Linked DNA regions of Homo sapiens: all the other regions are linked to region 3. The links come from fine-mapping of genetic effects on gene expression. A gene starts in region 3. Each other region holds a variant in brackets. All regions are shown on one strand. Distances are between the middles of the regions. Region 1 overlaps CHD5 (chromodomain helicase DNA binding protein 5). Region 2 overlaps CHD5 (chromodomain helicase DNA binding protein 5). Region 3 holds the start of CHD5 (chromodomain helicase DNA binding protein 5).

Region 1 (7,281 bases), 35 kb after region 3:
CCCCCAAGAGCCAGTGGAGGAGCCTTTCCTGCCTCCCATGTCCTCCTCCTCCTCCTCTGCCTCTCGGCCTTTGCTGTCACCAAGGCCAAAGGAAGGCTGGCTGTGTGGTGTACCTTGCACCTCCAGAATGCCTTCAGGTGTGATGTGGCACCACAGATCTGGTAGGTGGAGGAAGGGGTGGGCCATTTTACAGATGGGAAAGCAGGCTCTGGAGGCTTGGATGAGTTTCCGAGGACAGGTAGTAGCAAAGCTGGGACCTGCTATCCCCACCAGAGCTGTCTCCCTGAATCAGTCACCCCCGACCCTGTCCAGTCAGACAGCACCGCCTCCTTGGAGGGCCAAGGCTGCTCCCACCCATCTCAGGGCCCGAGTGGTGTGGTTTGTGGCTGTTGTATTTCTTGCCTTTGCCAGCCAGCAGCTCACTGTCACCCTAGCATCTGTCAGGGCCCCTGCAGTGTGTCTGTGGGCTGCCAGAGATGGGGCCTCATTGTCCCAGCCTAGACGCACGGTGCCTGGGTGCAGCCCTGCCCCGGGTGAGGGATGGTGGATGGGGCTGCCGTGTCCCTGGGCTCCAGCACAGGGCTCATGCTCCCTGAGTGCTTGGGGATCACACAGTGATGTGACCTCTTTTCAGGGGGCAATGGGAAGACCTAAGGTAGGGGAAGTCCAGAATCTCATGTTCTGCTCCCTGCTCTGCTGTCCCTTGCCGAGTGGGCCTCAGTTTCCCCCTCTGTCCTATGCACATGGCAGTCTCACCTACGCTGGCTCAGATATTCTGGGTGCCGATAAGTTCACCATTGAGTGAAAGGGCCACGTGGTCTCACAGACCCCCACTGCCCATCTCCTGTGTGCATGACCCATGCGGCTCCTGGGGACGGGGTGGATGTCATGGCGTCACCGTGGTACTGTTCTGACTTGGGGGCAGTGGCACTGATGGGAGGGAGCCTGCATGGCAGCCTGCTGTCATGGGAGCCTCAGGGTGGGGCCCTGCAGCTGAGCCCCACCTTGGGGACCCTTCTCTGTCCACAGTGCCCCCCACTGAAGGGCAAAGTCCAGCGGATTCTACACTGGAGGTGGACGGAGCCCCCTGCCCCCTTCATGGTGGGGCTGCCGGGGCCTGACGTGGAGCCCAGCCTCCCTCCACCTAAGCCCCTGGAGGGCATCCCTGAGAGAGAGTTCTTTGTCAAGTGGGCAGGGCTGTCCTACTGGCATTGCTCCTGGGTGAAGGAGCTACAGGTGAGTGCCCGGGAGGGTGGCTGTGCTAAGGCCCGGGACCTGGTGAGCCCTGGACCCTCCTGGGCTGGCGGGAAGGGGCTGAAGCGCCTCTGACTGAGGGGTGCTGTTGGGAGTTGGGGTGGTGCTGAGCGGGAGGATTGTCCTGCCTGGGACCTGGGCTGGGGCTAGAGGAGCTGGGTAGGGAGATGCAGGGGACCATGGCCCATCTCCCTTCTGTGACTTTGTGCCGCTCCATGAGCAGCTGGAGCTGTACCACACGGTGATGTATCGCAACTACCAAAGAAAGAACGACATGGATGAGCCGCCCCCCTTTGACTACGGCTCTGGGGATGAAGACGGCAAGAGCGAGAAGAGGAAGAACAAGGACCCCCTCTATGCCAAGATGGAGGAGCGCTTCTACCGCTATGGCATCAAGCCAGAGTGGATGATGATTCACCGAATCCTGAACCATAGGTGTGTGCCTGCAGGCGGCCACCCTGCCCATCGCTGGGGCCGGGCCACGTCAGCTTCTTTGCCCTGTAAAATGGGTGCAGCGCAGGGTGCCAGGGCCCTTGCTTTGGGGCTGCCGTGCAGAACCACATGTGGGCACAGCAGGGGCACAAGGAAGGGCCCAGGGTTCCCAGTGCTGGAGATCTGCCTGACCTGCTAGAGGGGCCGTCCCATGCATGCCGGCACACTCATGCATACGTGTTCACACCCCTGGGGCGTCGGGACCCTCATGCTGGGTTAGTGCTTGATACCAGCAAGAGGGTTCTGAGGACGAGGGACGCCCGAGGTGTGGGAGTATGTCCACATTTCCCCCGCGTTTGTAACAGCAGCTGGCTGTACTGAGCACTGCCTACCCTGGGAGGGAGGCGTCTTACTTTCACCTCTGTTTTACTGATGTGAGAATAGGCACAGCAAGGTTAAGTCGCCAGAATCACACAGCCACGGGGTGGAGCTGGGATTTGAACCCCATGCTTTCTGACTGCAGGACCTGCTTTCTTAGCTACTGTTGCACCCCCCAGTGCCCCAGCAGCAGCTCTTCCTGGAGCAGTCTGGCAGTTCCCTGGGATGCCTTAGCAATCAGAGGCTGCAGGAGGCTGGCACAAAGAGCCAGAGGCAGGAGGCCCGTGGGCTTTGGTTTTGATTTGGTGGGTGGTGGGAATGCCTGCTGATTCTTGAGTTGAGGTGCTTGAGAACTGGTGGTGGCTGACAGATGGGCCTTGGGGTGGGGCCCAGAGTACCTGCTGCCTGGTGGCAGCTTGGAGCTTGTGCTCCCCATCCCAGCTACCCTGTGGCCTCTGTTTTTGAGGGGCTTAGGATCGGTGGCCTCTGACACTCAGTGCTTCTGGCTTCAGGCAGCTGTTGGGTAGAGCAGAGGTTAAAAGCCTGAGCCAGATGTTCAGATTTCAATCCCGGTTCCCATCTGCTGAGCTTTGAGGCCCTTTTAGGGAACAGGCTGCTGCACGGGTGACAGGAGCTTGCCAGAGGCTGGCTGTGGGTGGTCTTCAGTACGAGGGTCGCGGAATTTGAAAAACTGCCCCCCTTCAACTATGGGACACCCCCCTTTTCCTCCCCAGGCCTCCCTGAGAATGACCTTCAAGGGTCAGTTCCTGTGGGAACCTGAGCCCGGCAATGAATTGGCCCATGGTTTTCTACCTTTACTAAATTACATGCTAAAAATATACATGGTAGTTTTTCTCTCTGCCCCAAAGTGGGGCAGGTGAATCTCCCCCAGATTTGTTCCCCCAATCTGCAAAACAATCAATTATGTATGGGAAAACAAACAAACATCGGTTGCCGTGGTAACGGGATCGGTTTTTCTCTTAATGTTCCCAGGCCCGCAGCAGCCGCTGCTCACCGGGTCTGTGTGCCTCCTCGGCACTGCTGTGTGGGGTAGTCAAGCCCC[A/G]GCCCGGCCCTCCAGCACTCCTCTGGCCTGGTTGCCTTAGCCTGGGTGGGTGGGAGGCCCTAAAGACCCTCCCAGTGGCCAGAATCAAGCTGTGTGCTGCTGGGCTTGGTCACTGGGTCTTTGTGTCCCCAGAAGAGACCACCTCACACGCAGGAATTGCATCCTTATCTACTTTGCAGAGATGACTCCTCACCCTACGTGGGCACTGCACAAGTCCTTTGCGTATTTTAAGTTAGAAAACTGAGTCCATTGGCAGGAAGGAGAACTTTCCAACTTAGAAATCCAGAACTCCTGTGAAAATCCAGACCCTGTGACAAATGGGATTCATCCCTGCCACAGAGGCTGCAAAGGATGTGGGAGGCTGGCTCATTGCTCCTCTGTTAGCTGGCCTCCGTGTCCCTCTCCAGCTCTGCCACATCCCCCTCTCATTCGCTGTGTGGCCCCAGGCAAGCCGCTGCACCTCCCTGGAGCTTCTGCCCTCGTCTCCTCCTCCTGGCTGGGCCCAGCATCCGAGGGGACCCTGGGTGTGAATGGCTCTGCATCCTGGGAGGTGCCCTTCATCAAACCTGTGCTGTGGCCACTGCTCTGAGCGACCCACATCTGTTCACCGTGTTGCAGCTTTGACAAGAAGGGGGATGTGCACTACCTGATCAAGTGGAAAGACCTGCCCTACGACCAGTGCACCTGGGAGATCGATGACATCGACATCCCCTACTACGACAACCTCAAGCAGGCCTACTGGGGCCACAGGTGGGTCGCAGGGATCCGGCTGCTAGGCACAGGCTGCCGGGACCTGCTCCTGGGCTGAGCCTTGCTCACCTGCCTCCAATGCCGTTTCCCAGGGAGCTGATGCTGGGAGAAGACACCAGGCTGCCCAAGAGGCTGCTCAAGAAGGGCAAGAAGCTGAGGGACGACAAGCAGGAGAAGCCGCCGGACACGCCCATTGTGGACGTGAGTGGGGAGGGTGGGGCAGCAGTGGGTGGGGTTGCCAGGGCCTGCCCACCTCAGACTTGAATGTGCAGGGGGTGTGTGTTCTCAAAAGGATGTTTCCTTGGGCCCTCATGGCTTATGCAGACAGTGTCATGCCCATGTAGGCTAGGACAGCTGGAAGGCCCCTCATAACACTGCAGCTGACATGCTACTTACACACCACTCTCACCTGGGAGGAGACCCAGGATGACTCACTCAGCAGAGCTCCCTGGGTGTCCACTAGCGCCTGGCCCTGGGTTGGCCCTGAGGAGACGAGGGCCAGTGAGCCCTGGGTAGCTGTTTCAGAAGACACACTGTCTTCTAGGGGCCCTTGGTGGGTATCCACAGAACACGGAGGGCCTGGCCTGGGACTATCAGGCGCCTGTCAGATGCTGGGGAAAGGCAGATGGGCCTGGTCCATTGGGAGGACTGCATGGGGCCAGTGACCTGGAGCAGGATCAAGAGACAAATGGGCCGGGCATGGTGGCTCATGCCTGTAATCCCAGCACTGTGGGAGGCCGGGGTGGGAGGACCGCTTGAACCCAGAAGTTTGAGGCAACGTAGTGAGATCCCACCTCTACAAAAAATTAGCCAGGCACGGTGGTGTGCCTGTGGTCCCAGCTACTAGGGAGGCTGAGGTAGGAGAATCCCTTGAGCCCAGGAAATTGAGGCTGCAGTGAGCCATGATTGTGCCACTGCACTCCAGCCTGGGCAACAAAGACTCTGTCTCAAAAAAAAAAAAAGTAAATGTCTGGATCCAGTGGAGGAGCCTGTTACTGGGGGCGTTGCGAATGCCCCAGATGGATGTTCGTTTTGTTGTTCATCCAAAAAATGGTGAGTAAGTGACCACATGTCCCAGGCACTGTGTGGTACTCAAGAGGAGGCAGTGAACAGGACCAAGGTGGTGATGACAACCTGGGCTCAGAGTCAGAGAATTCAACAGTCGGGAAATTTCCCTGATAGGAGAAGTACAGGGCTGCCATGGGAGGACACTGTGGGAGCACTTCAGCCAGGCTGGGAGTCAGGGAGGGCTTCCTAGAGGAAGAGGTGTTCCATCCAAGAACTGGAGAAGAGTTAGGAAGACAGACAGGAGTGGGAAGAGTGTTCCAGGCAGAAGGAATTGCATGTGCAAAGGCCTGTAGTGTGGACTCTGGTGGCCCAGGATCTGGGGCGTGTCTGAACCGCTGCCTCCCCTGCAGCCCACGGTCAAGTTCGACAAGCAGCCATGGTACATCGACTCCACAGGCGGCACACTGCACCCGTACCAGCTGGAGGGCCTCAACTGGCTGCGCTTCTCTTGGGCCCAGGGCACTGACACCATCCTGGCCGATGAGATGGGTCTGGGCAAGACGGTGCAGACCATCGTGTTCCTTTACTCCCTCTACAAGGAGGTGGGCAGGCGGGGCAGGCGGCCAGGAGGGGTGGCTGGTCCTGGCCAAGGGCAGGTGGTCTCACGGCATCGGCCTCTCTCTCCAGGGCCACTCCAAAGGGCCCTACCTGGTTAGCGCGCCCCTCTCCACCATCATCAACTGGGAACGCGAGTTTGAGATGTGGGCGCCCGACTTCTACGTGGTCACCTACACGGGGGACAAGGAGAGCCGCTCGGTGATTCGGGAGAACGAGTTTTCCTTTGAGGACAACGCCATTCGGAGTGGGAAGAAGGTATTCCGTATGAAGGTGAGGGCTCGCTATCCTTGGAAGGACGGTAGGAAGGCCCCCGGTCTAGTTCAGGGACCACGGGTGCCGTGCACTCCTTTGGGGTCCCTCAGCCTGGGAGGGCTACCGAGGCCGGCAGGCTCTGAGGGGCTTGTCCTAGAGGCTGAGTTACAGCCATGTCAGTTTTCTGGGGCTCCTGTAACAAAGTGTCACAAATGGAGTGGCTTCAAACAGCAGAAATGTATTCGGTCACAGTTCTGGAGGCTGGAGGTTGGAAATCAAGGTGAGGGCAGGGCCACGTGCCTCTGAAAGCCCTAGGGGAGAACCCTTCCTTCCTCCTTCCAGCCTCCTGGTGGCGGCAGGGGTTCACTGGCCTACAGCTGTCGCGTCAGTTTCTGCCTCTGTTAGCACATGGGGTTTTCCCGTTTGTGTCTGTTTCTCATCCTATAAACACATCATTCATACTGGATGTAGGGCCTACCCTAATCCAGTATGATCTCATCTTAGCTACTTATTTTATTTATTTATTTATTTATTTTTTTGAGACACTGTATCGCCCAGGCTGGAGTGCAGTGGGGCGATCTCGACTCACTGCAACCTCCCCGTCCTGGGCTCAAGTGGTTCTCCCACCTCAGCCTCGTGAGTAGCTGGGACTCCAGGAGTGCGCCATCATGGCCGGCTAATTTTGTATTTTTTGGTAGAGACAGGTTTCACCATGTTGGCCAGGCTGGTCTTGAGCTTGTGACCTCAAGTGATCTGCCCTTCTCAGCCTCCCAAAGTGCTGGGATTGCAGGAGTGAGCCACTGTGCCTGGCCCCAACTAATTATTATTATTATTATTATTAATTATTATTATTATTTTTTTGAGACGGAGTCTCACTCTGTCGCCCAGGCTGGAGTGCAGTATGGCACGATCTCAGCTCACTGCAACCTCTGCCTCCCGGTTCAAGCAATTCCCATGCCTCAGCCTCCAGAGTCGCCGGGATTACAGGCACATGCCGCAATGCCCAGCGAATTTTTTGTATTTTGGTAGAGACAGGGTTTTACCATGTTGCCCAGGCTGGTCTCGAACTCCTAAGTTCAGGCGATCTGCCTGCCTTGGCCTCCCAAAGTGTTGGGATTCCAGGTGTGAGCCACCACGCTCAGCCTATTATTATTATTATTATTATTATTATTATTATTTTGAGACAGGGTCTCGCTCTGTCACCCAGGCTAGAGTGCAGTGATTGATCATAGCTCACTGCAGCCTTGACCTCCCGGGAGCTGGGACTACAGGTACACACCACCACACTCAGCTAAGTTCTAAATTTTTTGTAGAGATGGATTCTCCGTATGTTGCTCAGGCTGGTCTTGTACTTCTGGGCTCAAGTGATCCTCCTGCCTCAGCCTCCCAAAGCATGGGGATTATAGGCATTGAGCCACCATGCCCAGACAACTAATTATGTCTGCAAAGACCCTATTTCCAAAAGAGCTTCTGGGTGGACATGAATGTTGGGGGGACACTATTCAATGCAGTGCACCAGCTGTGTG
Region 2 (7,281 bases), 26 kb after region 3:
CAGGTATGCAGGCAGGAGACCAGCATTCCCTCTGATTGGACTGGCTTAAGACATGACTGGCCTGACCAGACTTTGGCCTAGGAGTGGTGTGTACTGATTGGCTTAATGTATCAGGTTGGGTGGGGGCAGCTCAGGGCTGCTTGGAAGAAGTGGGGTGTCAGGGAAGGAAGAAGAAGGGTGGGTTGGGTGCTAACAATTGCTAACGCATTTTGACACACCCTGTTCCAAGCACCTGCACTAAGTCATTCTGTTCTGCAAGGCAGTGTGCCATTATCTCCATTTTACAGATGGGGAAACCGAGGCAGGAAAGTTAAGTAACTTATCCACTTCTTACCACCGGTATGTGGCAGAGCCAGGATCAGAACCAGCCCATGCCCACATCCGGCACCTCCCTTTCTGAGCCCCGCCAGCCCGGGCCTGGTCATCTGGTCACCTGACCCCTGGGCTAGCTCTCTTGAGAACTCACTGTGCCCCTGGGATGTCCCCCCACCCCAGGCCTCAGCAGTAGTTGGATCCTCTCAGGGCTGTGCCCCCAGGATGTCCCTCCACCCCAGGCCTCAGCAGTAGTTGGATCCTCTCTGGGCTGTGCCCCCAGCTGGCCCATTGTCCCATGCCCCTGCCCCAGCAGAGTGCACTTTCCTTTCACTGGAAACTGGCAGTGGCCTGTCCTTCACAAGGGCTGACGTAGCTATACCTGGCATCCTGGGGAGGCCTCATGTCTTTTTTTTTTTTTTTTTTTTTGAGACAGAATCTTGCTCTGTCACCCAGGCTGGAGTGCAGTGGCGCCATCTCGGCTCACTGCAACCTCCGTCTCCCGAGTTCAAGTGATTCTCCTGCCTCAGGCTCACAAATAGCTGAGATTACAGGCACACACCAACACACCCAACTAATTTTTGTATTTTAGTAGAGACAGGGTTTCAGCATGTTGGCCCGGCTGGTCTCTAACTCCTGACCTCAAATGATCTGTCTGCCTTGGCCTCCCAAAGTGTTGGGATTACGGGCGTGAGCCACCACCCCTGGCCTGGAGGCCTCATGTCTTTCTAAAGTGGCTTAGGCAGCCCTGGAGCCCTGCGGCCTCATCAGGGACATCTTCCCGTCTTCAGGCCACTGTGCTGTCCTGCTGTCCAAATCCCCAGAATGCAGTCCCCACAGAGGGCAAGTTCTGTTGTCCTGCCCTGGTGTCCCGAGGCTGGTCGGGCAGCCCTATCTCAGGATGGGGGCCTGGTCTCAGGCATCCAGTCTCCTTGCCCACACCTGGCTGATTTCCCTTTCTGGAAGTTCAGGGCACACACATGGCCTCTCCCCAAACCCTGACGTCGAACACTTGGCCTGCACTTCGTGGGCTGGCATCTGAGACGTGGCACAGATTGGGGGCTGCGGGGCTGCGGGGCTGCAGGGCTTGAATGTTTCCTAGGGTGGGTGAGAATGGTCTGGTTACATTGCAGACACAACCCCTCCTCTTTCCCCTGTGCCAAAGCCTCCTAGGCAGAGACCCTGGGGATGGGGGTGCAGGTCAGAAGGCCCCTCAACAACTCTACCTCTGGCCTGGGTCTCTGTAGGAGCCCAAGTCCTCGGGGCAGCTCATGGCCGAGTGGGGCCTGGACGACGTGGACTACCTGTTCTCGGAGGAGGATTACCACACGCTGACCAACTACAAGGCCTTCAGCCAGTTCCTCAGGTGGGCGGGGCACTAGGGCTGTTCTCCAGGCCCGCACATCCTCTGGTGGTACCAAGTCGGGAGGGAGGCAGAGGAGTGAAGCCCCGGCACCTGGGGTAGGGGTGGGCTCTGTCAGACCGACTGAGCAACCTGGGGGAGCTGGAGGGAGGGGGCAGGACCCCTTCATGTTAACAGACCACCAGGCCTTCCCTTGTGGGCCCTGCCCCTCAGCCCTTGAGTCTCTTCCCCTTGGGGAAGGTGGTTCCAGTCTTTCCTGGGGGGTCTTTCACCACCATGGCCTCTCAGCTCTGGTAGAGGTGGGACGGAGACCCCAAGGCCCACTGTAGCCCACCTGTGGCCCCACAAGTCTTGCAGGGCCTGAAAACCCAATGAGAAAATCACCAACTGTGTGGACAGGAAGCTGGGGTGTTTTGGGGGTGGGCTGTGGGTGTGGACAGGAAGCTGGGTGTTTTGGGGGTGGGCTGTGGGTGTGGACAGGAAGCTGGGTGTTTTGGGGGTGGGCTGTGGGTGTGGACAGGAAGCTGGGGCGTTTTGGGGGTGGGCTGTGGTCAGTGGGTTTCCCGCCTAATCTCTCTAATCAGGAACCTGGGGCTGCTGCCATAGATCGCACATGTGGCAGAGGGGTGGGCCCTGCCGGGGGTCGGGTGGGCCTCTCATCTCACCTGGCCTTGCCCTCACCCTCCTGCCTCTCCCCCTACAGGCCACTCATTGCCAAGAAGAACCCGAAGATCCCCATGTCCAAAATGATGACCGTCCTGGGTGCCAAGTGGCGGGAGTTCAGCGCCAACAACCCCTTCAAGGGCAGCTCCGCGGCAGCAGCGGCGGCGGCGGTGGCTGCGGCTGTAGAGACGGTCACCATCTCCCCTCCGCTAGCCGTCAGCCCCCCGCAGGTGCCCCAGCCTGTGCCTATCCGCAAGGCCAAGACCAAGGAGGGCAAAGGTAAGGCTGGGGTTGGGTGGGCACCTAGTCCCGCTGGGAAGAGGTCCCTTTCAGACCCTATAGGAGAAGCCACGGGGCAGACGCGGGCAGGGAGGGGCAGCTGGGGTGCTCCTAATGGAGGGCTCTGTGCCTGTGTGACCTTGGATTGCCCGGTCCTTTCTCAGCAGTGAGGCAGCATCGTCGCCTCTTTTGTGCCTGACTCCCTTTTGGGGTTGGTGGAGAAGCAGAGGCGATGATGTGGGCAGAGGTCTGGGAGGTTTGAGCCTGGCCAGCCAGGAGGTGCCCCCGACGTGGGCCTGGAGGGAGGGCGGGACCAGAGGTACGCAGAGTGGAGCCGCTCCAGCCTGGGTTTCTGGGAGTTGGCAGGCTCTTGGGTTTGAGCCTGTGCCGTTTCTGGGGAGGAGGAGGAGGCCCCAGTCGAGCCCGTCTCTTCTTCTTGTCTGCATACCCACTGTGTGCAGGGTTGTTCTCCAGGCCCTCGGCCAATGTGGAGCATGGAGGCCCTGCCCCTCCAGCTTTAGGATCCGGGAAGCAGGCAGGAGTTGGAGGGACTGGGCACGGCCAGGTCTCGCTTCCCAGGGAGGCTGTTCTGGGACAGGCCTGGAAGGAGATCGAGATCCAAATTCTGCCTCAGTGGCAGGGC[G/A]TCTGGGTGGGGAGGATGCAGGCAGCAGAGGCCCCCTGTGACTTGAAGGCCCTGGGGAGGGAGCTTTCTGGGTGCAGGTTTCTGGCCTTTTGGAGGCTGGGGATGTTGATCTCCCCAGGGCTGTCAGTCACCTGCAGCTCAGCTTTCCTGGGTGCCCTGATTTGTTTTGTTTTGTTTTGTTTTGTTTTGACAGACTCTCACTCTGTCTCCCAGGCTGGAGTGCAGTGGCACGATCTCTGCACACTGCAACCTCCGCCTCCTGGGTTCAAGCAATTCTCCTGCCTCAGCCTCCTGAGTAGCTGGGATTACAGGAGTGCATCACCACACCTGGCTAATTTTTTGTATTTTTAGTAGAGACGGGGTTTCACCGTGTTGGCCAGGCTGGTCTCAGAACTCCTGACCTCAGGTGATCTGCCCACCTCGGCCTCCCAAAGTGCTGGGATTGCAGGTGTGAGCCACCGCGTCTGGCTGATTTGGGTTTTGATGGAAGGGGCTGAGGGGGCTCCGGGGATCCCTTCTTTCAGCCCCAAGGAGCTTTAGTTTCTGGGGTTCTGTGTCTGGCATCACCATGCCAAGTCTCTGAAGGGAGCCTGGTGGGTGAAGTGACAAGGGTCAGAGTCTGTTCCCTGTCCTGCTCCATCTGTCTGGGCCATCAGGATCTCGGGAGGGGCTCCTGGCCCGCCCCTGTCTGCCCAGCCTGCCTTGTTTTCTCATTTCCTCTCGCGCTCCAGCTGCTGAGCTATCGATTCCATGAGCTGCTTATTCAGAGCTTGGAAAATTGAAATAGATTTTCCGCGGCGCCATGGAGGGTGCAGCTGGGCTCCTAGCTCCATGTCCGTGTGTGTGGTGTGGCCAGAGGACGGCCTGGGGAGAGGCTGCCTCTGTGGGGTGTGCATCCCTGCCTCCAGGCCCCCCTTCCTTCTTGGGTCATTACTCCCCAGGTAGCTAATTGCCCTGTGGCCAGCTCCATAAAAACAGCCTCAGCCCTGCTGGCCCTTGCTGGGGTTGACTGGCAGAGGTGGGGCAGTCTTGGGTGGGACCAGCATTGCCTGGCTGGCAGGTGGGAAAAGGCCTTTTGGCTCCAAGACATCCTTTGGGGGCTCAGGCATGGACCACAGGTGGGCGGCTGTGCCTTCAGTGGCCCTGCTGGCTGTGGGGGATGGCTAGTGCCTCCTTTCAGTGGTTGGAGACGGTATAGGGGATCCTCCCAAAAGGGCCACATTTCTGTGGGTCATGGACAAGGGGCAGCAAGGCGGTCAGGGCAGCCTCCAGTCAGAGCCGTCATCTGGTTTTTGCCTCACTTGCTGTGTGATTTTAAGCAAGGGGTTTACCTCTCCAAGCCTCAGGCATCTCATCTGAAACGGGGTGATGGTAGAAATGACCCTTTCCTTATTGGGTAACCGAGAGCTCAGTGAGATGATGGCAGGAAGCAGGCCGTCAGTGGTGGCAGTGGTTGGCTATCATCACTGCTGTTTTTCAGGGCCTGGAGTGAGGAAGAAGATCAAAGGCTCCAAAGATGGGAAGAAAAAGGGCAAAGGGAAAAAGACGGCCGGGCTCAAGTTCCGCTTCGGGGGGATCAGCAACAAGAGGAAGAAAGGCTCCTCGGTGAGTGTGTGCGTGTGTGCGCGTGTGTGTGCATTTGCATGCATGTGTGTCTGCACATGAGCACGCAAGGGCCAGGCGAGGGCCTTCAGTTCATTACAAACTAGCTGGGGCAGGTCGCACCCCTCCACTATTCTCCTTCCATCCTACATGCAGGTGTGCTGGGCCTCAGTTTCTCCATTTGTGTGATGAGGAGTTTAGATTGAATCCTTCCAAGGGCCCTTCTAGCCTGGACTCTGGGCAGGGAGTGCTCCCCTGGCTCACCCTCCTGAGTGGGAGCTCAGTCCTGGCTCCTGCTGTCCACAGCTGCAACTCCATTTGGGCAGGAGGTGGAGGGATCTGTCCTGGTGGGGCCTGGCCGCCCAGCACCCAGGTCTGCTCTCGGGGGGAGTAGTTGGGTGGGGGCTGGACCCTAGAGAAGTGGTATGTGGGTAGGATCAGGCTGGCTGGAGCCCCAGTTACCTCCTCCTGTCCTCAGGGCCAGCTCTGGGCCCAGGCTCAGACACTAAGCCCAGGTCTTACTCAGCCTTGGGGCCCCCCTTTCTCTGTGAGTGTGAGGGGCATTCGCCCTCCTCACCCCCACAGGTAGCTGCCTCCCTCACCTCACCCCAGCCCTGCGGTGGGTGGAGTTGGAAGCTCTTTCCCTGCACCATGGCAGGAGCCAGTGTTAGGTCTGGAGGGGAGCATGGAGAGAAGGTGTGGCCCGCCCTGGAGCTGACGGTCCAGTTCAGCTTAGCAGATATTTGTTGAGCACATACTGTGTACCAGGCCCGCTGCTCAGCCACAGTGGGCCGTGGTCCTGTAGCACTCGTCACCTGGCAGGCATGTTTGCTGGTGGAGAGCCCGTGATGTACCAGTCAGACAGGACAGGCCAGACCTGGCACACACGCAGCCACAGTAGGTCCAGTAAAGGAGAGATCTGGGAAGACTTCTTGGAGGAGGTGTCCCTAGGGCTGCCCCTTGAAGGATGTTTAGGAGTTTGGCAGGATGGAGGGCAAGGCCTGGGAAGCTGTTCAGAGGTGGAAATTGTGGGAAGTGTCTGAGGCTGGAGAGCAGGGCTCTGGGTAGGCGGTGGGACATCAGGCTGGACAGGCAGGCTGTAATGTGAGGTTTTCAGCTGTGTTGGGGGCTGAGATGAATCACAGAGAGCACTGTGTCTCCAGAGCCTCTTCCGTGCTTTGTCCCACCCCACACTGCCTGGGCCAGCGAAGCCTTCTGGGTGAAGCCCTGGGATCACAGGACCCTGTCTTCCCCTGCAGAGTGAAGAAGATGAGAGGGAGGAGTCGGACTTCGACAGCGCCAGCATCCACAGTGCCTCCGTGCGCTCCGAATGCTCTGCAGCCCTGGGCAAGAAGAGCAAGAGGAGGCGCAAGAAGAAGAGGAGTATGACTCCCCTTCCAGAGAGTTCTTGGCCTGCTGGGTGGATGTAGTGGGGCACGAGTAGGACTCCCCATCTGGACGGTTCTCGGCCTGCCGGGTGGATGTGCGGGGCATGGAACCTCCCCGTGGGAAGCAGGGGGAGGGCATCCTCATGTCTCAGCCAGGTGGGGCCCCTGTGTTTCCCACACGGCCCTGGTTTCTACTGTCTGGGGAGGGGCATCCTGTCCCAGTAAGGAAAGAACAAGGAACCTATGGTGGGAGCTACCCCAGGGCATTTGCATTAGCAGTGTGGTGACTGGAGAGGGAAGTGCTTCATCTCATCGCCATCCTCCCTTCAGTCACCCCCCACCCACTTAACACCCATCTTTACCTCACCTTCCTTCCCATCCCTCCTTCTCCCTCCTTCCCTCAGTCCCTTCTTTTTATCCATCCATCCTTCATCCATCCAGCCATTCATCCATCATCCATCATCAATCCATTTGTCCATCCATCCGTCAGCTATCCATCCACCATCCATCCATCCATCCATTCATCCATCCTTTTGTCCATCCGTCCGTCCGTCCGTCCGTCCATCCATCCATCCATCCATCCATCCATCCATCCTATCATCCATCCATCCACTTGTCCATCCATCCATCCATCCATCCATCCATCCATCCATCCATCCTTTTGTCCATCCATCCATCTGTCCATCCATTCATCCATCCCATCCATCCATCCACTTGTCCATTCATCCATCATCCATTTGTCCATCCATCCATCATCCATCCATCCATTGTCCATCCGTTATCCATTCATTTGTCCATCCATTATCCATTCATTGGTTCATCCATCCATCTACCACTCTGTCCATCCATCATCCATTTGTCCATCCATCATCCATTTGTCCACCCATCCATCCATTTGTTCATTCATCTATCCATCCTTTTGTCCATCTATCCATCCATTTGTCCATCTATGCATCCATCCTTCCATTTGTCCATCCATTACTCATCCATTTGCCCATCCATCCATCCATCCATCCATCCATCCATTTGTC
Region 3 (7,281 bases):
GTCCTGAGTGACGCCGTTTCACCCCTGCCGAGGAGGAGGTGTGGGGCAGAGTTTTGATCTATGTGACTCGCTGTGAGGTGGTGTATGTACAAGCACTTCATTGCCCTTGAGAAGCTGGTGGTGCCAGGTGGCCACAGCGTGGATATGCATTGTTGAACGAAATGGCCTCAGGCAGGCCTTGGGGGTTCCTGGATGAGGAGTTCATTTAGTCCTGGAATGGAAATTGAGTATGGTATGTGCAGAAGACGATGAGCTTTTTCCACTCTGTTCTTGGAAAAAGTTTTTTTTTTTTCTATTTTTGAGACAGTCTCGCTCTGTCACCCAGGCTGGAGTGCAGTGGCGCAATCTTGGCTCACTGCAACCTCTGCCTCCTGGGTTGAAGCGAATCTCCTGCCTCACTCGCCCGAGCAGCTGGGATTACAGGCGCCCGCCACCATGCCCGGCTAATTTTTGTATTTTTAGTAGAGATGGGGTTTCTCCATGTTGGCCAGGCTGGTCTCGAACTCCTGACCTCAGGTGATCCATGACTGCCCGCCTCGGCATCCCAAAGTTCTGGGATTACAAGTGTGAGCCACTGCACCCAGCCGAAAAAAGTTTTTTCCTTGATGCTTTTGTAACCGGTATATTAAAAAATATTTTGATTTTGGAATTGTCACTGAGGTGTAATTATGAGCTCTATGATCAGCAAACATGAGAATCTTGTCTCCTAAAACAGTAACCTTAATGATAGGCTTGTTCTTGCAACGCAGAGTTGCAAGTTTCAGGGATTGCTTTTAACGTCATGCATTTTTGGTCCGTTGTCATTAAAATACCCATTTAATAGTTTAACAATAATAAGGGCTCACCTTTAAAAATGACTGGAGAGCCGGGCATGGTGGCTCACGCCTGTAATCCCAGCACTTTGGGAGGCCGAGGCAGGCGGATCACGAGGTCAGGAGATTGAGATCATCCTGGCCAACAGGGTGAAACTCTGTCTCTACCAAAATACAAAAAATTAGCCAGGTGTGGTGGTGCGCGCCTGTAGTCCCAGCTGCTACTGGGGAGGCTGAGGCAGGGGAATCGCTTGAACCCGGGAGGCGGAGATTTGCAGTGAGCTGAGATTGCGCCACTGCACCCCAGCCTGACGACAGACACCATCTCAACTCCCCCCCTTGAAAAAAAAAACCCAAAAAACCTGGAGATTTGTAGTAAAAAAATCCATTTGTTTCTAGCATTCCAGTTTTTGTTTCATTTTGCTTTTGGACATTAAATAATATTACCTAGTTGCAGTCATCGGGAAGAACAGGATGGGGAGAGGATTATGACTGATGAGCATCTCGGCTCTAATTTGTTGCCAGATTAAGCAGTTAGAACTGTTCTTTCTTGAACGATATCTTGACTTTCAGCCTCGCCTTGGGAATTGGAGCCAGGGTTAATGATGGGGGCGGCTTTCTGGTGATGAGAAGTATTGTAAATCAGAGTTTTTCTACCGAAGGGCAGGGGACCTTTGAAAGGGATTAGAGAGGTGTTGGGGGGCTGGTAACTGAGGGGTGGGCGTGTCAGCTTAGGGCTTTCTTCCCTTGTTGGTCACCATTCATGGAGGCAGTTGGTCTGGAAAGAACGAGGAAGAGGCAGGTTTGGTTCAAGCCTCGGTGATCTGGGGCTCCCCCTGGCTAGCTGCTCTGTGGGGAAACACGGCCTTGGGAGGGGAGGCCCTTTGGTTTCCTGGCCTGCTTCCCTGAAGAGTGTTCCTTTCCCCTTGCAGGCGGCCAGCACTGGGCTGACCCGGCTTCTCTATCTACAGCGTAGTTAAAGCGGATCTGGGAGATGGAGGGGTTCCCAACACCCCAGTCTTTGGTTCCAGAAGGCTGGACCGACCTCTCCTTGCCCAGGGATGAATGCAGAGGGTCTTTTGTTTGGGGTTTGCTGGCAATAAAATTGAACGGGAAGAAGGGAAACTGCTGCCGATCCTGCGTGTCTCAGGTGGGTTCCCCCAGTGCCCCTGCGAGGCAGTGAGAGGGGGCCCTCCCTTCACGGGCCTTCTGGGGTTAGAGAGCTGGCGGTCGGCCAGCCCCTGGAACTTTTGCGTTCTTAAGGTAGCTTTAAGACTTGCCGCCGCGGAGACTGGAGGCGCTCATTTAAAATTCCAGTCTTGCTCCCGAGGGCTTTGGCCTCCATCTTCACCTTTAACGACCGAGGGCTGGTGGCGGCGGCTCCTTCCTGCTCTGCGACAGGTGTCGCTTCTGAGCGGGAGTTTTGGGCACAGACATCGCAGATCCGCACCACCCCTAGGGGTCTGCATGGGTTTCAGCTGCACCCAGCCTGGAGGGGCTTTTTGGAAGGGGGCACGTGGGCGGTGGGAGCGGGGAAGCAGGTGAGGGGAGCCCGCCTGCGCGGATTTTTCTGCTGTAAATCAGACCCACAGTCTCCAGAGCGTCTTTTCCCCAAGTGTGGAACACATTTTTCTTCTAATCCTCTTTGGAGAGGGGGTTAGGAACGTGCCGAGGCCGGAGCCGGGAGCGGGGTGGGTCCCGGCGCCTGTGAACCGAGTGGGGGAGCGGGCCGCGCGCTGCCCTGAAGACCCTGCCTCCGCGCCCTTGGGGGCTCGGGGCCCAGCGCCTTCGCAGGCGAGCGGCGGCGGCTGGCTCTGCCCGGGGTGCGCGGGGGCGGTGTTTCCTCGCCTCCCCCTGCGCCCGGGCTCGCCAAGCCCCGACTGCCCGCTCGGCCGTCGGGTCCGCGGGCGCGCGGACGCCTCGACGGCTCCCCCTGCCGGGGCGCCCCCCGGTCCCCACCCTCACCCGGCGGCTCAGGACTAGTCCCCCAACTTGTTCTCTGCTGTTAACTAGTCGCGCTGCCGGAACGATGGGATGGGGTTGCCACAGCAACCAGACTGGACGTCACAATCCGGGCATGTGTGCCGCCCCCCCGCCGTGCCGCCGTGCCTCTGGCGCTGCCGCCGCCACCCTCGGCCGGCTGCGGGACTCGGGCTGCGGGGCGCGGTGGGAGGAGCGCCCGGGCTTTGCGGGGAGCAGGCTAAGGCGGCCGAGAGAAAGGGGGGTCGAGACGGGGGGGTGGAGGTTTGGGGGGGTGGGGGGGCAGGCGGCCGCCATCTTCTCGCCGAGGCCGCCTCGCCCGCCGCGCGCGCCGGTCCGGCAGCGCACGGGTTAAGGCTGGCACCGCGCCCGGCGGGAGGGGGGGCGCCCACCTCCCCTCCTCCCCGCGCCGGGCATGCGGGGCCCAGTGGGCACCGAGGAGGAGCTGCCGCGGCTGTTCGCCGAGGAGATGGAGAATGAGGACGAGATGTCAGGTGAGCGGGGCGCGGGTGCGCCTGGGGCCAGAGCGGCGGGGGCGCCGAGACGGGCCGGGCCCAGGGCGGAGCGCGGGCGGCGGGGGCGGCGCGGCCGGGCTGGCGCCTCGCAGGAGGGGCACCCGGGTTGCGGGGCTGCGCTCCCGCCCTGCTGGCGCCGCGCGGCCAAGGGCGAAGGCTGGGTGAGCGCCCGGGCCGGCGTGAGGGCGGCTAAGGGCGGGGTGCGATCCGGGCCCCCCGGGCGGCGACGCGGGCCAGGCGGGCCAGAGGACCGCGGGCCGGGGCCTGCGCTGGGGGGCGCGGCGCTGTCAGGGTCAGCCCGCGTGCCCTTGAAGGGGGCGGGAATCGCGCTAGCTCCCGGAGCGGCGCACCCCGCGCTCGCGTCCCGCCGCCGTGCGCCTCTGGCCTCGCTGCGGGCAGGCGGGACCCGGCCCCTGGCCCATGTCGGCCGCGGGGCGGGCTGGGTGGGGCCCAGAGAGGGGCGAGGACCGGCGGTGCTTGGGGACGCGTTGAGCGCCCAGGATGGGGCGGCTTCCCTCCCGGCCCAGGAGGACTCCGCTCTGGGACGCACGGGCTCGGACCCCTGCTCCTCTTTCCTGGCCTCTGTGCGCTGTGACCGCCGCTCCCAAGCACTTTACCCGGGCCGCCGGCGTCCTTCTGGCGCGACCTAGCGCCCGCCGCTGTCTCCAGCCTCACCATCGCCCAGGGTGGTGGCCGTTCCCAGCCCACCCTGCCTTGGCTACGGGCCTGACGCCCCAGGGCCACCGCCCCTGCCCCTACCATCTCTCTCCTTTTATCTCTCTCAGAATTTAGTATACACAGGGCTGTGCGCCAGGGGTTGCCTTGCGGGACAGTTCTTTAGTTAACTGCTCACCATTTGTTTGGGACGTTTTCCCTCCTGGCACAGCTGGGTAGGGCCCCACCCTGTCAGCCACCCTCCCTCCTTTCTGGGAGACTCTTACTTCTCGGCTTCCCTGCGCCAAGTCTGTGGCCTCTCTGGACTTCGGAGAGACTTGTGGGAGGCTGGAGGCCCTCCCGGGCCCAGGAACGTGCATCTGGCCCCTTCTGACTTCCAGGGGTGAGAAGACTCCACAAATGGACACCTCCAGCTCCTGTTGGAGGAAGCAGCCAGCGTCTTCTGGGGAGGGTATTCCCACCAGGTGGCCACACCCCCTGCCCCCTTCTGTTTGCTTGCTTGGTTAGTTGGTGGCTTTAATGCTGTCACTGAGCTCCTACAGGAGCCCGGCACTCACCTCGCCTGTTAGACAGGCCAAGTTGGCAGCGAGCGTGCTGGGGACGGGGAATAGGGGAGTCCTCTCTTGGGGTGGAGTTGCCTGGACAATAGTTGACTGTCATATCCTGGGTCCTTGGAATTAGACCCATTCTCCGGAGGGGAACTCTGAGGCCCCGCACAGGCACAAAAAAAAATCAGTGGCCATTTTCCACCTAGGAGGCTGGCTCCCCAGTAAGCCAGTTTACTGGTTTTCTCAGCAAGTTGTTTGTTATGGTGTTTGGGGTGTGGCCCTTTTGTGGGATCAGTGGCATTTCTGGGGTTGCACCGACCCGCTGGTGGAGTCCCCTGGCTGTCTTTCCCATCTTACACTCCGGCTCTCTCTGACTATGTGGGGACTTAGAGGTTGGGGAGGGGAAGAGGCCAGGGAAGGTGCCCCCAGTCTAGTAGGCACCCGACTCACTGCTTGGGCCAGAGAGGCGGGGCTCTGGTCATCCTGCCCACCACCCGTGCTCCCCCTCGGTGGGTTGGCCCCAGAGCCTCCAGGAGTGCCCCCAGAGCCCTGCAGAAGAGACGCCCTGCTCTGGCACCTCTGGCCTGGGGATTCTGTCCCCATCCATCAGCAAGGCCAGCTGCTCCACCTCCAGAGCCTTTCCAGGCTCCTGGCTTCTCTCCATGTTCTGGGTCCAAGCCTCTGTCCCCTCCTGCCGGTCCCCTCCAGGGCCTTCTACCCACTCCTTCTGACCACCCACTGCACAGCAGCTGGGGTCACCTCGTGAACCCAAGTCAGATCCCGACCCGCATGGCTCCAGTCGCCTCTGAAACCCTTGTCCCGGGTCCACTCCTGTACCCCTTTGTTCACAGCAGCCACGCTGGCCTCCTTGCTGCTTCTGGAACACTCCACGCTCCACGCTCCATCCTGCCATGGGGCCCTGGCTGTGACCTCTGCCTGACCTGCTCTTTCCTCTGCTCACCGCTGCCTCCTGGTCATTTAGGTCCCAGCTCGAATGTTATGATGGGGAGGGACACCCTTGCTAAGGGCCTTCCAGTCACTCTGAGACACATTGTCATGCTTTCTTTGGAAGAGATGGGGTCTTGCTGTGTTGCCCAAGCTGGATTTGAACTCCTGTGCTCAAGCGATCCTCCTGCCTCAACCTCCCTAGTAGCTGGGACTACATGCTTGTGTCACCACACCTCACATACTCGAAACGTTGTCATCAGTTTCCTCCTGGATCTGTGGGTTCCCCTTCGAATGTAACTCTCGATAACCTGCCATGCCCAGCACCTGAAACCATGCGTTCCTGAGAGATGGTTGTGGTTTCAGTGTCTGAGGGCTGGGACTCTCTAGGTCACCCCAGCTTCTGGCTGTGAAGACAGCCCTAGCCAGGCCTCCTGTCAAGTCGCACTGCTGGCCCCCCACTCACCCTGAGCTCTTCCTCATAGCCCCTATGCAGCCCTGAGTCCAAGCTCAGTGGCGGTGACCCCCAAAGACCAGAACCAGCTGGTTCCAAAAGATGGAAGTTTGTGGCTGGAGGAGCTAGTGTTTTGGAAGCTGTCATGATGATTTTTCAGTCTACGGCTATTAAACTCATGACTTGTCCGATCTTTTTTCTTTGACTCTGCTCATCTCCCACCTCCCCCTGGGAGTTGCTCACTCTCAGCAGTGAATTATTGTTTCCCGTGCAGTGATGGTGGGGAGGGGGAGGTTTGCCCTGGCCAGCTCTGGCATTGAGGCAGGTGTCTGAGCCAGCTTCTAGGAGGAAGGCAGGGCGGGTGCCTCTTCTGGTTGGGGGACCAGCAGTTGCCAGATTCTCCTGGGAGTTGGGGTGGCTGGTTGAAGCCAGGGGTCAAGAGCTGGTGGGATGAGGCCTTGGCTTCTAGCTCTGAGCATTAGCTGAGTGGTCTTGGACAAGCCAGGCAGCCCTCTCCTCGGTGTGCCCACTTGTAGTATGGGGACATAGCACTGGCTACCTCATAGAGGGTTATTATGAGGAACAGTGAGACAGTGCATGTGGAACATTAGGCCACAGTGCCCAGCACATGATAGGTGCTCAATAAACTGTGGCTGGTGTAGTTAGCACCAGCCAAGGAGGGCAGCTGTCCTGCCTTCTCCAAGGAAATGCTTCTGATACTTGCATCCTTAGCCAGTAAGCTCAGGGGAGTAGGAGCCTGGGTGGGAGGAGGGCTGTGAAGCCCAAGGTAGGGGTGGCAGGAAGCAGGAGAGGGCTTCAGAAAATGTGGCTCTCAGCCCTCTTAGGGCCACTGCTGGGCTGGCAAATTCCCTGCCTCATTGGCCCAGCTTTTCCTCAATCACAGACAAAGCTAGTGAGCCCAGAATGGGCAATGTCTGGACTAGGCACCGTTACCTCTCTGGCCCCAGTGACAATTGGCCCTAGATGTGTAAGTATCTTAGGCTTGCTTCCTCAGGTCCAGGGGCCAGGAGAGAGTGACAGTCATGATTCCCAAAAGGCCATGACATTTTAGCCTGCACCCCTACCCCTGTGGAAGCATGGTTTGGTAGGGGGGTCCCAGGGAGCCTGATTGTATTTAACATTCTTTTCTGGGAGGAGGGAGACAAAATGACCAGCACACTTTGCCCAGTGGCTTGGCCAGTGGGTTATTCATTGTCATTCCAAGTTGATCAGGTAATAGGATCCATCTATCATTTTATCAGTTCATTCAGTCGCTCACCCATCATCCATCCATCCATCTACCTACCCACCCACATCTACCCATCCACCTACAAAACCAACCAAGTAACCGT

Evidence for each region. PIP is the estimated chance that this variant, and not a neighbour inherited with it, causes the effect.
Region 1: its variant is fine-mapped to the expression of CHD5 in whole blood (TOPMed, PIP above 0.99).
Region 2: its variant is fine-mapped to the expression of CHD5 in whole blood (TOPMed, PIP above 0.99).

Annotation. Positions count from the first base shown.
Region 1 is chr1:6,140,620-6,147,900 of GRCh38, reverse strand. CHD5 (chromodomain helicase DNA binding protein 5) reads left to right here. Exons shown (of 42, transcript NM_015557.3): 10 at 1,030-1,236; 11 at 1,478-1,689; 12 at 3,746-3,877; 13 at 3,970-4,078; 14 at 5,296-5,487; 15 at 5,573-5,773. Among named protein-coding and RNA genes, the nearest start is that of CHD5, 36 kb to the left of the region's middle. The variant A/G (reference allele first, on the strand shown) is at 3,128.
Region 2 is chr1:6,149,996-6,157,276 of GRCh38, reverse strand. It overlaps CHD5 (chromodomain helicase DNA binding protein 5), which reads left to right. Exons shown (of 42, transcript NM_015557.3): 4 at 1,560-1,678; 5 at 2,379-2,617; 6 at 4,741-4,865; 7 at 6,122-6,245. Among named protein-coding and RNA genes, the nearest start is that of CHD5, 27 kb to the left of the region's middle. The variant G/A (reference allele first, on the strand shown) is at 3,261.
Region 3 is chr1:6,175,950-6,183,230 of GRCh38, reverse strand. It overlaps CHD5 (chromodomain helicase DNA binding protein 5), which reads left to right and starts at 2,910. Exons shown (of 42, transcript NM_015557.3): 1 at 2,910-3,286. The coding sequence starts at 3,208. RefSeq lists enhancers at 3,653-4,152, 4,153-4,654.